2 linked regions of the Homo sapiens genome follow. The protein of the gene in region 1 purifies or fractionates together with the protein of each later gene. This does not show direct contact. Each region holds a gene or a part of one and is shown on either strand. Other genes may lie near its edges.

Region 1 (5,395 bases):
TAACATACAAGTGTAAGTTATGGTTCCATACACTTTAAACAAACTATCTGACAAAAAAGAGACAGAAAGCAATCTTATTTACAATAGCACTAAAATAATAAATTTCTGAGAACAAATTTAACCAAGGAGCTTAAATATCTTTCAAATAAAAGATACATCAATAAAAAAAAATTGGAGAAGACAAAAATAAATTTAAAAACATTTCATGTCTATTGATTGAAAGAATTTTTTTTTTTTTGAGATGGAGTTTCACTCTTGTTGCCCACATTGGAGTGTAGTGGTGCAATCTCAGCTCACTGCAACCTCTGCCTACCAGGTTCAAGCGATTCTTCCGCCTCAGCCTCCCAAGTAGCTGGAATTACAGGCGCCTGTCACCACGCCTGACTAATTTTTTGTATTTTTAGTAGAGACAGGGTTTCATCATGTTGGCCAGGCTGGTCTCAAACTCCTGACCTCAGGTGATCCGCCTGCCTCGGCCTCCCAAAGTGCAGGGATTACAGGCGTGAGCCACCATGCCCGGCTGAAAGAATATTATTAAAGTGCCGTGTTATCTACAGTGCTCTCTAGATTCAATAAATTCTCTATCAAAATTCCAGTATTTTTTTTTTACAGCAATAGAAAATACAATTCTCAGTCAGGCACGGTGGGTCACGCCTGTAATTCTAGCACTCTGGGAGGCCGAGGTGGGCGGATCACGAGGTCTAGGAGTTCGAGACCAGCCTGGCCAATATGGTGACACCCCATCTCTACTAAAAATACAAAAATTAGTCAGGCATGGTGGCTCGCGCCTGTATTCCCAGCTACTCAGGAGGCTGAGGCAGAAGAATCGCTTGAACCCAGGAGGCAGAGGTTGCAGTTAGCCGAGATGATGACACTGCACTCCAGCCTGGGTGACAGAGCGAGACTCTATCTCAAAAAAAAAAAAAAGAAAGAGAAAAAGAAAATACAATTCTCACATAGACTTACAATAAACTTTGAATAGCCAAAGCAATCTTGAAAAAAAAAGGACAAAGCAGAAGAACATCATACTTTATAATTTCAAACTATACTTCAAGACTATAATAAGACAGAATGCAATGTGCAGAAAAATTAGCAATAAAGAAACCAATGGAACAGAAACCACTGCTCTCACACATTTAGGACATAATGTAAAAACAGAACTTGAAAAACAGTTTAACATAGAGTTTCTCAAAATTATGCAGATTATCTACGTGTTTTCAAAAACAGTGAAAAAGTCAGATTTCACAGTCTCTTATGTGCCATGAAGAGGGCTGTCTTGGCTGTCACTGTAAACTTGAAGAAGATCACCAAAGGGAAAGTAAAATCTTCAGAGATTTTAAAAATATAAGACAGAAGATGCTTCTATGTGAAAGCAAAATTTAAAAAATTCAGGCTTCCCAGAAACTATTTCCTTTGGAACACAGATTTCAAATCATTTTAAGGACTGGCTTTTTTTTTTTTCTACTTTGGAGCTCTCATCTGTGTCATCTGTTGTATTCACTTTCACTCTCACCTACCTGGGGGTTCAGCTACCATCTCATGTCTCTTCACATTCCAAGGTTCTTTTCCTTGCTCCAGACAGGTGATCAGGTCTGGCTTAGAGGCAGCAATACCTGTTTTATTACAAATAACATGAATCTTGCTCATATTCTCCAATTACCAATTTAGTAGTGTGTTCAGAAAAAAGGATGTAATAGAATATTCTAGTAAATTGATTCCAAAATACTAATACACAACAAAAAATTTTAAATATTTAGGAAATATTTTAATTTTGTAAGTTCTTAATTTCACTACCTGATACTACTAAATCAAAAACTGGTAGTGGCAATTAGATTTTAAGATGTGGGCAACAGTACGTTATGCCACTAAATTTCTAAAATTAACACTAATCTAGAGTGAAGAACACAGATCAGCTCAGGAGTGTGGAAAGTTCAGGTCAAAATGAAACATCTTGAAATTCTTTTCTACATAGACAAATCTTGAAGTTAAAAACAAAAAACAGAGATCTGAAAGCATAAATTACCAAAAACCATTCTACAAAAAAGAGAAATAAAATTTATAGGGTATATTAGGGAATTGTATATTGAAGTTATCCTCACCCACGAAGACCAGGTTTCTGTAGTTCTCTAACATCACATTCCTATATAAATTCTGCTGTGCGGTGTCCAGGCATTGCCACTCCTCCAGAGAGAATTCTATGGCCACATCCCTAAATGTCAACACTCCCTGAAAAACATACAAACACACATACATATTTACCAAGTGGCCATGAACAGAATTTTTAATTTGACTCAAGGTAAAACAAGAGTAAAGAGAACTGGTTCTTACTTATAGGAGTGACTGATATATTTAATAAATAACTTTCAGCACAGAAGTATATTCTCTAATGCATTCTCTAACTCTGAGAAAAGAGAGTGGCATAAGATCCACAACATCGAGGTAAGTATGATACTTCTTCGGATGATGAAGTATAAAATTGAGGGCATTAACACTAACATGTACATTTTTGAGTGCTACATTTACATCATACAGAATAAGTTGTGTAAATTTTTCAGATGGAAAAGACATATTCAGTTAGAAAATACTGCTCACATGTTAATGTGTACAATAAACTGGAGATCTTGTTAATGCAGATTATTTTTTCAGAAAATCTGGGCTGGGAGCGATGGCTCACGCCTGTAATCCCAGCACTTTGGGAGGCTAAGGCGGGTGGATCACGAGGTCAGGAGACCGAGACTATCCTGGCTAACACGGTGAAACCCTGTCTCTACTAAAAATACAAAAAATTAGCCGGGCGTGGAGGCGAGAGCCCGTAGTCCCAGCTACTCGGGAGGCTGAGGCAGGAGAATGGCATGAACCCCAGAGGCGGAGCTTGCAGTGAGCTGAAATCGCGCCACTGCACTCCAGCCTGGGTGACAGAGCGAGACTCCGTCTCAAAAAAAAAAAAAAGAAAAGAAAATTTGGAATAAAATCTGAGTTTCTGAATCTCTAACAAGCTCACCAGTAATGCCCATGTTTTTGGTCCAAGAAAACTATTTTGTCAAACATCCAGTAAGTGGAAAAGCCTGTGTGTTTTTCAGTTTTTCTGGCCTGTAAACAAAGATGAGAGCTTTCATTTTCCAAAGACAGATAAATGCAAAGAAAACCTAAGGTGGCGGGCGCCTGTAGTCCCAGCTACTCGGGAGTCTGAGGCAGGAGAATGGCGTGAACCCGGGAAGCGGAGCTTGCAGTGAGCCGAGATTGCGCCACTGCAGTCCGCAGTCCGGCCTGGGCGACAGAGCGAGACTCCGTCTCAAAAAAAAAAAAAAAAAGCCTAAGAAAGGTCAGCTGCCAGATTAAATGTGATTGTTTATGCACATCTGCTGAATAAAGATACTCAGTAATGAAGAGAAAAATAATTAACTCTATAGAAAAAAATCTGTCACAGAGTTCATTAATCAAGTGAGTTATTAACATCAAGTGCATGAAGACAAATGTGCTGATGCACACAGAAGGACACGGCATCACTGCTATGATATTGCCCAGCCAAAAGTAAATTATAGTCTGAATTTAATCATAAAGAAACACTGGTTTTATGTAAAGTTCCAGATACCAATATCTGCCATGTTCTGTAAATTTTAATAGTGATTTTAAGTAGTCTTTCTTTCACACCCTAAAGAGCAAGTATCTCCTAATTATTATTATTTTTAAACTTTCTGCGTAATAAATGCCATCCCATTTAAATAAGCATTTTCTTAATCTTATTTGTTTACAGCTAATGGAGAACAGAGATGGAACCTCAAAATTACATGCTCTCCATCTTTATTAAGGACCCCAGCTTTTCCCCAATAGGAATCTTGAGTATCTACACCTTCCCATGTTCCATAGCCACGAAGGAAACATTCTTAATATTGCAGTTCATAAATTCATGGTGAGAATTCTTGATGACATGTAAGAAGCCATGATGTTGAGAATGTAGAGAAGACTCTGGTATGTAGGAAAGAAATATTTTTCAGAGACCTTTGACTATTATAAGAACTAAAAAGTAGTTAAACTCATTAGGAAGAAAAAGCACAAGTAGAAAAGTAAAGCTTTGCAAGTACTGAACACATGGCATTCCAGGAGGCAGAGTGGACACAGTTCTTCATCTGAGACATGTTTAGCTTAAAAAGAAAAAAAAGCCATTTTTTAGGGGCAGGGCAAAGATGGCCAACTAGAAGCAGCGGTGATCAGAGACTCCCACCGAAAAGAACCATAATGGCCTGTGAATCCTGCACTGGCACCTGAGGTATCCAGGTTCTCTCATCAGAACTGACTAGGCAGCTGGCATGACCCACAGAGAGGAAGAAAGAGCAGTGTGGTGCAGCAACCCACCTGAGAGCCACACGGGGCAGGGGAGCCCCCACCCCCCAGCCAAGGGAGGCGGTGAATGAATGTGCTACTTAGCCGACAAAACCATGCCTTTTCCATGGAATTGTGCAACCCATAGACTGAAAGATTTCACTCGTGAACCCATGCCACTGGGGCCTAGGATCCCAACCCCAGAGCTGTGCAGATTCTCAACAGCCTCTCAGCTAAAATCTGCTTAAGCCTGCTGAGTTCCCAGGGGAGGGGTGACCAGCACTACAGCTATGGCTGCCTGCTGTTTAAGCCATTTGAGCTCCCTGGGGGAGGGGCAGCAACCAGCACTGGGACTGACAGCTGCCTAACACACTAGGCTCCCTGGGCAGGGGAAGGGCGGCAGTCATCTCTATAGCTCCTGGCCATGCTTTTCCCCTGCTGGAGCCAGGGATGCTGGACGGCTTGGTCCCAAGAGGTGTCCCCCACAGCCTAACACACTGGCTGTGCCAGACTGCAGCTACAGCTCCTCTTCAGGCCTGACCCTGACACATCCCTCCTCACTGTGTGGGGCCACTCTGCAGGAACTCCAACAACTCCAGCCAGGGGCTCAGGGACAGAACTCTGATCTCCCTGGGCCTGAGTCCCTAGGGGGAGAGGTGACTGCAGTTTCTGTGGACCAGTGGACTTAGCTTTTCCCCCCGCCAGTTCTGAGGAATCCAAGCAGCCCAGAGGAGTGAGTTTAACCCCAGTGAAGCATACCCCCTCCACCAAGGGACAATAAAAGTGCTTCATTAAATGGGTTCTGTTCCTCATGCCACCCAACTGGGTGAGATACTCCAACTGGGGTTGTCAGACACCCTATACAGCTGTGTTCCTACTGGCATCAGATTGGTGTTCCTTAAGGTCAGAGATCCCAGAGGAAGGAGCAGGCACCCATCTTTGCTGTTCTCCAATCTCCTTAATATCTCCAGGTTCAGAAGTGAACCAGATAAATAGGGCCTGAAGTGAACCCCCAGCAAACCACAGCAACCATACAGAAGAGGGATCTGACCATTGAAAGAAAAACAAACAGAAA
Region 2 (5,341 bases), on another chromosome or scaffold:
ACAAATGACTATTGCATTTAGCAATTTTTAATGCCTCTAATAAAGTATAAATAGGGATAATCCTATCACTATATGGTATATGGGAGATGGGCCAAACAAATCAAATGCTATACCGTTCTTAAGCTAATAATTTGCAAAGTATCTACTGTAGTACCAAACTGGAAAGCTAGTGAAAACCACTTATCTAAAAAAACAACTTGGGAAAGGCTCCTCAACTCTTTGCCATAACATTATGTTGTATAATTAGGTTCAATCCTGCATCTTTTGCACCATAATTAAGGGCATCTGCTCTCCTTACATGGTCAGTAGGAAACACAGTCAATTATGGAGGGTCACAGAAGTAATGCAGATAAGTCAGAATGAAAATCACAGTTAAATAACTGCAGTCCCACCTACTCTCTCCCCCTTCTCCCCCATCTGCAAGGATGACAAAGATTCTCTCCTCCACCAAACTTGAGTCAGGCCTCTCTTCTCTACTAAGTCACAACGTTGGCGCCAATCCTGTTCCTTAAGCAAGAATCCTGTTAAGTCAGGTTAGCAAGAATCCCCCAAACTTGATACCTGCTCAAGTTCCTCATTCCCCACCTTTGATGTTACAAGTCTTTGGTCTGCTTTCAGCAAGAATCCTGCTAGGTCAGTTGAGTTTGGTTTAATGTCCCCGCTGAGTAACTTTCCATTCCACTGACCCCTCACACTCTACTCTTTGCCTACAAGTACCAGCTGTCAACGTGGTATTGAGCTGGGTTGTTTTCCTATATTGCAACAGACTTGAGTAAAGTCTTCCCCAGCATTGTAACAAGTGTCAGAATAATTTTTTTTCTCTAACAGCAGGGAAGGTCTTGGGCCTTCAGGTACAAAGCTAATCATAAGCTGGTTGGAAAAAACAAGTTTGCTTCCCTAATGTGACTTAAAGGCTCCAAATACTGAGATTTAAAATTACCCAGAAGCATTAAGACATTAAAATCAAAACAAAACTCCTGGTGCTGGTCCCTTTGAACCTTAATAGTCTATTTCATTTTAATTTAATTTCAAAGAAAGTACAAAAGGGGAAAGATTATGCTATAAAATTTTCTTGAGGATAATGACTATGTCTTATTATATTATGAATCCAGCATGGGACCAATGCTGGACACATAGTAGGAGTGCAATGATTTCATCAATTGAGAGAAATAATGGAAGCAGATGAATGATTATTTCCTGAAAAATGATAGCAAAAATTCAAGGGGACAAGCTAACTAATCCTCCCTTTAAATTAGGCAAATCACAGAACTATAAAGGCACCAGAGTTTATTTCTACCAAACATTGAGAATTAAAAATAACTCTTGAACATTAATGTATTTTTAGACAACAATTCCAGTATGCAGTTTTACATTTTCAACTAGTACTGCTGTAACCTTAATTGAAAGCACTGTATAGTGGGGTCATAGCAGAGATGCGGATGTCTACCTAAACTGGGACTGAAACATATAGTAAACACCCCCCTGCATGGTTAAACCCTTTGCCTGAAGCATCACCAGTCCTTGAAAGAAGCTGATGCATTTTCCTAAGAAAAGAGACATCCCCAGGAGCTCCACCTAAGGGGGATGATTTCTTTATAATGCTATATCTGAAATATGAAGGAACGCTTAGCTGTCTGCTTTAAAATAGGAAATTAATACCTTTTGCAAGTCACCAGAAAGGTAGCTGAAATAGCTCAGGCTACTCTGGACTTGTAACTCATCTGCAGATACCCTCACCCACTCCTTTTTATCCTTACATAAGAGTAGAGAACCTCAAGTTTCTTCAGTTGCAAAAGTCAAACAGGAAGTTTCCAAGCAGGAGTTCTGCAAAGAGGTATCAGTCAGTAAGAGGGGCAGGTATGCCAGGAAAAGTTAGAAGGGAAAAAGAAAGGCCAGGGGATTTCCGAGCTTTGGGGCAAGAAAGAAATAGCGGTTTTTGTGTCTTCACCACCACCCAGCCAACTAATGCCATTTATTGGTAATAAGCAATTAGTGCCAATGACCAAGGAGACAGACAGCCTGCAGAGTCCAAAACAAATCCAAATACCTGTAGGCAGCTGGCTGGATTTAAATAAGGTTATTCCATCAAAAATTTCATAATTTTCAACTCTGTGAGACATACACTTATATGATATACATTTAACAGACACTCTCAAAGTAGCTTTTGTTTCTACTTATGTCCAGGGGTACTTTTATAAGAAATAGGAAAAAAAATTTATAGTTATAGCTATAACCGAAGTAAAATTAGCTATACTTAATGTATTCTTTCTGTACAAGTAAACAAATGTATCACTGATAAAAACCTGAATATGATGCATTAACATACACAATATTGTTGCTCAAAACCACAACACATTCTTTGGCATTCCCTACGTCTGTAGTTTCAGGCACAAATTCCATGCCTGCTGGCATCTCTAAGACCAACTGTTTCATCAACAGGATAAAAATCGGGCAAACAGGTAAAAAAAGAAAAAAAGCCAAAATGGGTTCCCAACCCATTATAAAAATGAACCAACCTCCACTTGGGTGGTATTTGAGAGAAAGGAAGTAGCTGCCGCCTGGTCTCTGGGTCAGACTGTTGCTCCCCAAGGGCTTTATCAAATGAGCAAACCAAACAGGCTCAGCCACTGATTTCAAAGCCAAACTTAAAACTTGCTAATGCATGTTTTTAGAAAGATTTTAGCTTAGTAGATGTTATCTATAACTACAATGCTTTACAGAGCTTTACAACCTTGCAAATACCCCTTAGCCAAGTGGCTAAACTTTTCAGCTGTAATAGGAAGCTTTTCAAGAGCTGGGAAATTCCATCTAGGACAATGCCAATGAATACTGAAATGAACGAAAATCTTCAGTTTCTGCAACCTCAAGTCTAGCAGGGATTGCTTACGGCTAATTCTCTAGTTCTATAGCCTATAGAGTCTCTCTTCTTGAAAGGGATTAACAGTAAGTGGCAAAAGATTAGACCATTTCTCCTTAATTTTTCTACCATCTCAAAGGGTCAGTCATCAACATTAACTCATTGACCAAAAGATGTCAATTTTTCCTCCCAAGGAAGGCTTGGAACGTGACTCACTTTCTAGAGAGGTAAACAGATCACTTCTGATTCAGGCATTAGCTCCTTAGTACAGTTCTTATCACCACAATTTGAGCAATCTTCCTACCTATTCAACCCCTCTCAGGTACCTTCTAGTACAAAGAGAACAGAATTTCTTCTCCCAGTAAATCCTGTAGGAAAGGGCAGCATTACTGGTGGCAGCTTCTGATCACAGCCACAGTCCCTACTTGTCTTTCTCTTTCCTTCCCTATTTCAGCCATTTTGATCATTCAGGATGCATTTTTGCAGGAAGATAAACTAACAGTTCAAGATATAAGGAAGCGGTACAGTATATTATCTGACAGGGTTAAAGGTGAGAAGAGAGAGATGGCCAAGACTTTAGTGGCTATTCCTGGGTACAGATGAATACATCATAATTTAATCTACTGTAGAGAACGAGTTTGGTGTTGCGAGCTCTGGAGTCAGACTGCCTGGGTTCACACACAGGCTTGACCCTGGGCAAGTTGCTTAATCACTCAGTGCTTCTGTATTCTCAACTATAATATGGAAATGATAGTGCCTACCTCATTAGGCTTTTATGAAAATCAGATGATATAAAACAGTATAAGCACTAAAGAGTAAGCATTAACTATGTTAGCCATTACCAATAGTATATATTTAAGAAGAATGAGGTAATTCTGTGTTTACTTATGAATACTGTTAATGACATAGTGTTTTGTGAAAATGCTACAGAATAATATGCTTAGTATGAGTCTATTTTGAGAAGAAAAAAGAAACGCATGATATGTATTTATGAGGGCATCCAAAGAAGTCTGAAAGCCAAATATCACCCAAACATTGAACCCTCATTACTCCTAGGGAGTAGGTGAGGGCTGGGGAAGAGGGGCTGACTTTTTTTTTTTTTTTTTAAATAGGTCTTTGCTTGAATTATCACACATGTATTATTTTTGCCACTAACTTTAAAATTTGTAACATTTTACAGTGGCCTTCCTAGGCTTCAAGTTGAATATCTCTCATGTTTTATTCTAGGAAAAAAAAATTAACTTTTTAGGGATGCGGAAATGGAGGCCCAGAGAGGATGGGGGGAGCCCTCTAAGCACTCTCTCATGCGTGTCTCATTGCATCCTGTGCCTACCATAGGCATGCAAACACTCTGAAATTCGTTCTTTCCTTTCCCTCATGCTTATCTGAGGCTTTCCTTTTACTGTGTCCAAACGGCTTCCACCTTCAGTGTTTCAGTATCTTCTTTCCTACCTCTCATAACTTTCTCACCATTGCCTGCTTTTCCTTCTCGCCTTGACAGGCGCCCTCGCCCTGGGAAACTCACTGGAGTGGGGACAGATCTCAGGCGTTTGGCAGTCACAAGGACCCCCATCTACACAATTATACCACAGGGTATGCCTCCAAGTTGCTGTCTCGTAAAGGGTCCAAATGGGCTTTTTTTTTTTTTTTTTTTTTTTGAGAAGGAGTTTCGCTCTTGTTGCCCAGGCTGGAGTGCAATGGCGCGATCTTGGCTCACTGCCATCTCTGCCTCCCGGGTTCAAGCGATTCTCCCGCCTCAGCCTCCCGAGTAGCTGGGATTACAGGCATGCGCCACCACGCCCGGCTAATTTTTGTATTTTTAGTAGAGACAGGGTTTCTCCATGTTATTCAGGCTGGTCTCGAACTCCTGACCTCACGTGATCCGCCCGCCTCGGCCTCCCAAAGTGCTGCGATTACAGGCGTGAACCACCGCGCCCGGCCTAAATGGGCTTTTAAATAACGTTTTTATTTCAGTCAAGAAATAGTGTTTGGTATGTTTGGCAGGCTCTTTTTTCTCCTTTAGGTCTTTCCTTACACAGGTGTTTATTTTTGCTTTGGCTTTCTCTTGGAAGTTACAATGCTATTTTGTACCTTCGCCACCCACAACGTTCTCTTCCGTGCTCATCTTTTATGATGTGTTAATTTTTACTGTCTGAGCTCCCATCAAAGCGCATTTCTGCCTCCTCACTTTCACACTCCAATCGTCTAGCCCCATTTATACACGTTTTCCATTTCAGCCCATGGAGAAACGCTTTATAGGATGATGGGAGAAGGAAAGGAGAATTAGAGATAATAAGCAGAGCAGATTCCAAGCAGTCTCTCCCACCGGAACCCTTAGGGTCGGGAACCAAGCCTGCCCCGGGGTATCCGGGCCACCAGAACAGGGTCAGCATCAAGGCGCCCAGGCATTGGAAGAGCTGATTGGTTCCCGGACGAACCAATCAACCAGCGAGGCCGTGCACGGATAGGGGAGGGCCAAAACTA

Evidence for each region. The genes of interacting proteins can lie anywhere in the genome.
Region 2: the proteins of ZNF492 (region 1) and PPM1H purify together in Homo sapiens (affinity purification with mass spectrometry; one large-scale study listed by BioGRID and IntAct). This does not show direct contact.

The regions. Positions count from the first base shown.
Region 1 is NC_000019.10:22,650,138-22,655,532, reverse strand, and holds part of ZNF492 (zinc finger protein 492), read right to left. Parts: intron 2,227-5,395; 5' UTR 2,134-2,226; coding exon 2,100-2,133; intron 1,614-2,099; coding exon 1,518-1,613; intron 1-1,517. UniProt on the Homo sapiens protein: May be involved in transcriptional regulation.
Region 2 is NC_000012.12:62,928,137-62,933,477, forward strand, and holds part of PPM1H (protein phosphatase 1H), read right to left. Parts: intron 1-5,341. UniProt on the Homo sapiens protein: Dephosphorylates CDKN1B at 'Thr-187', thus removing a signal for proteasomal degradation.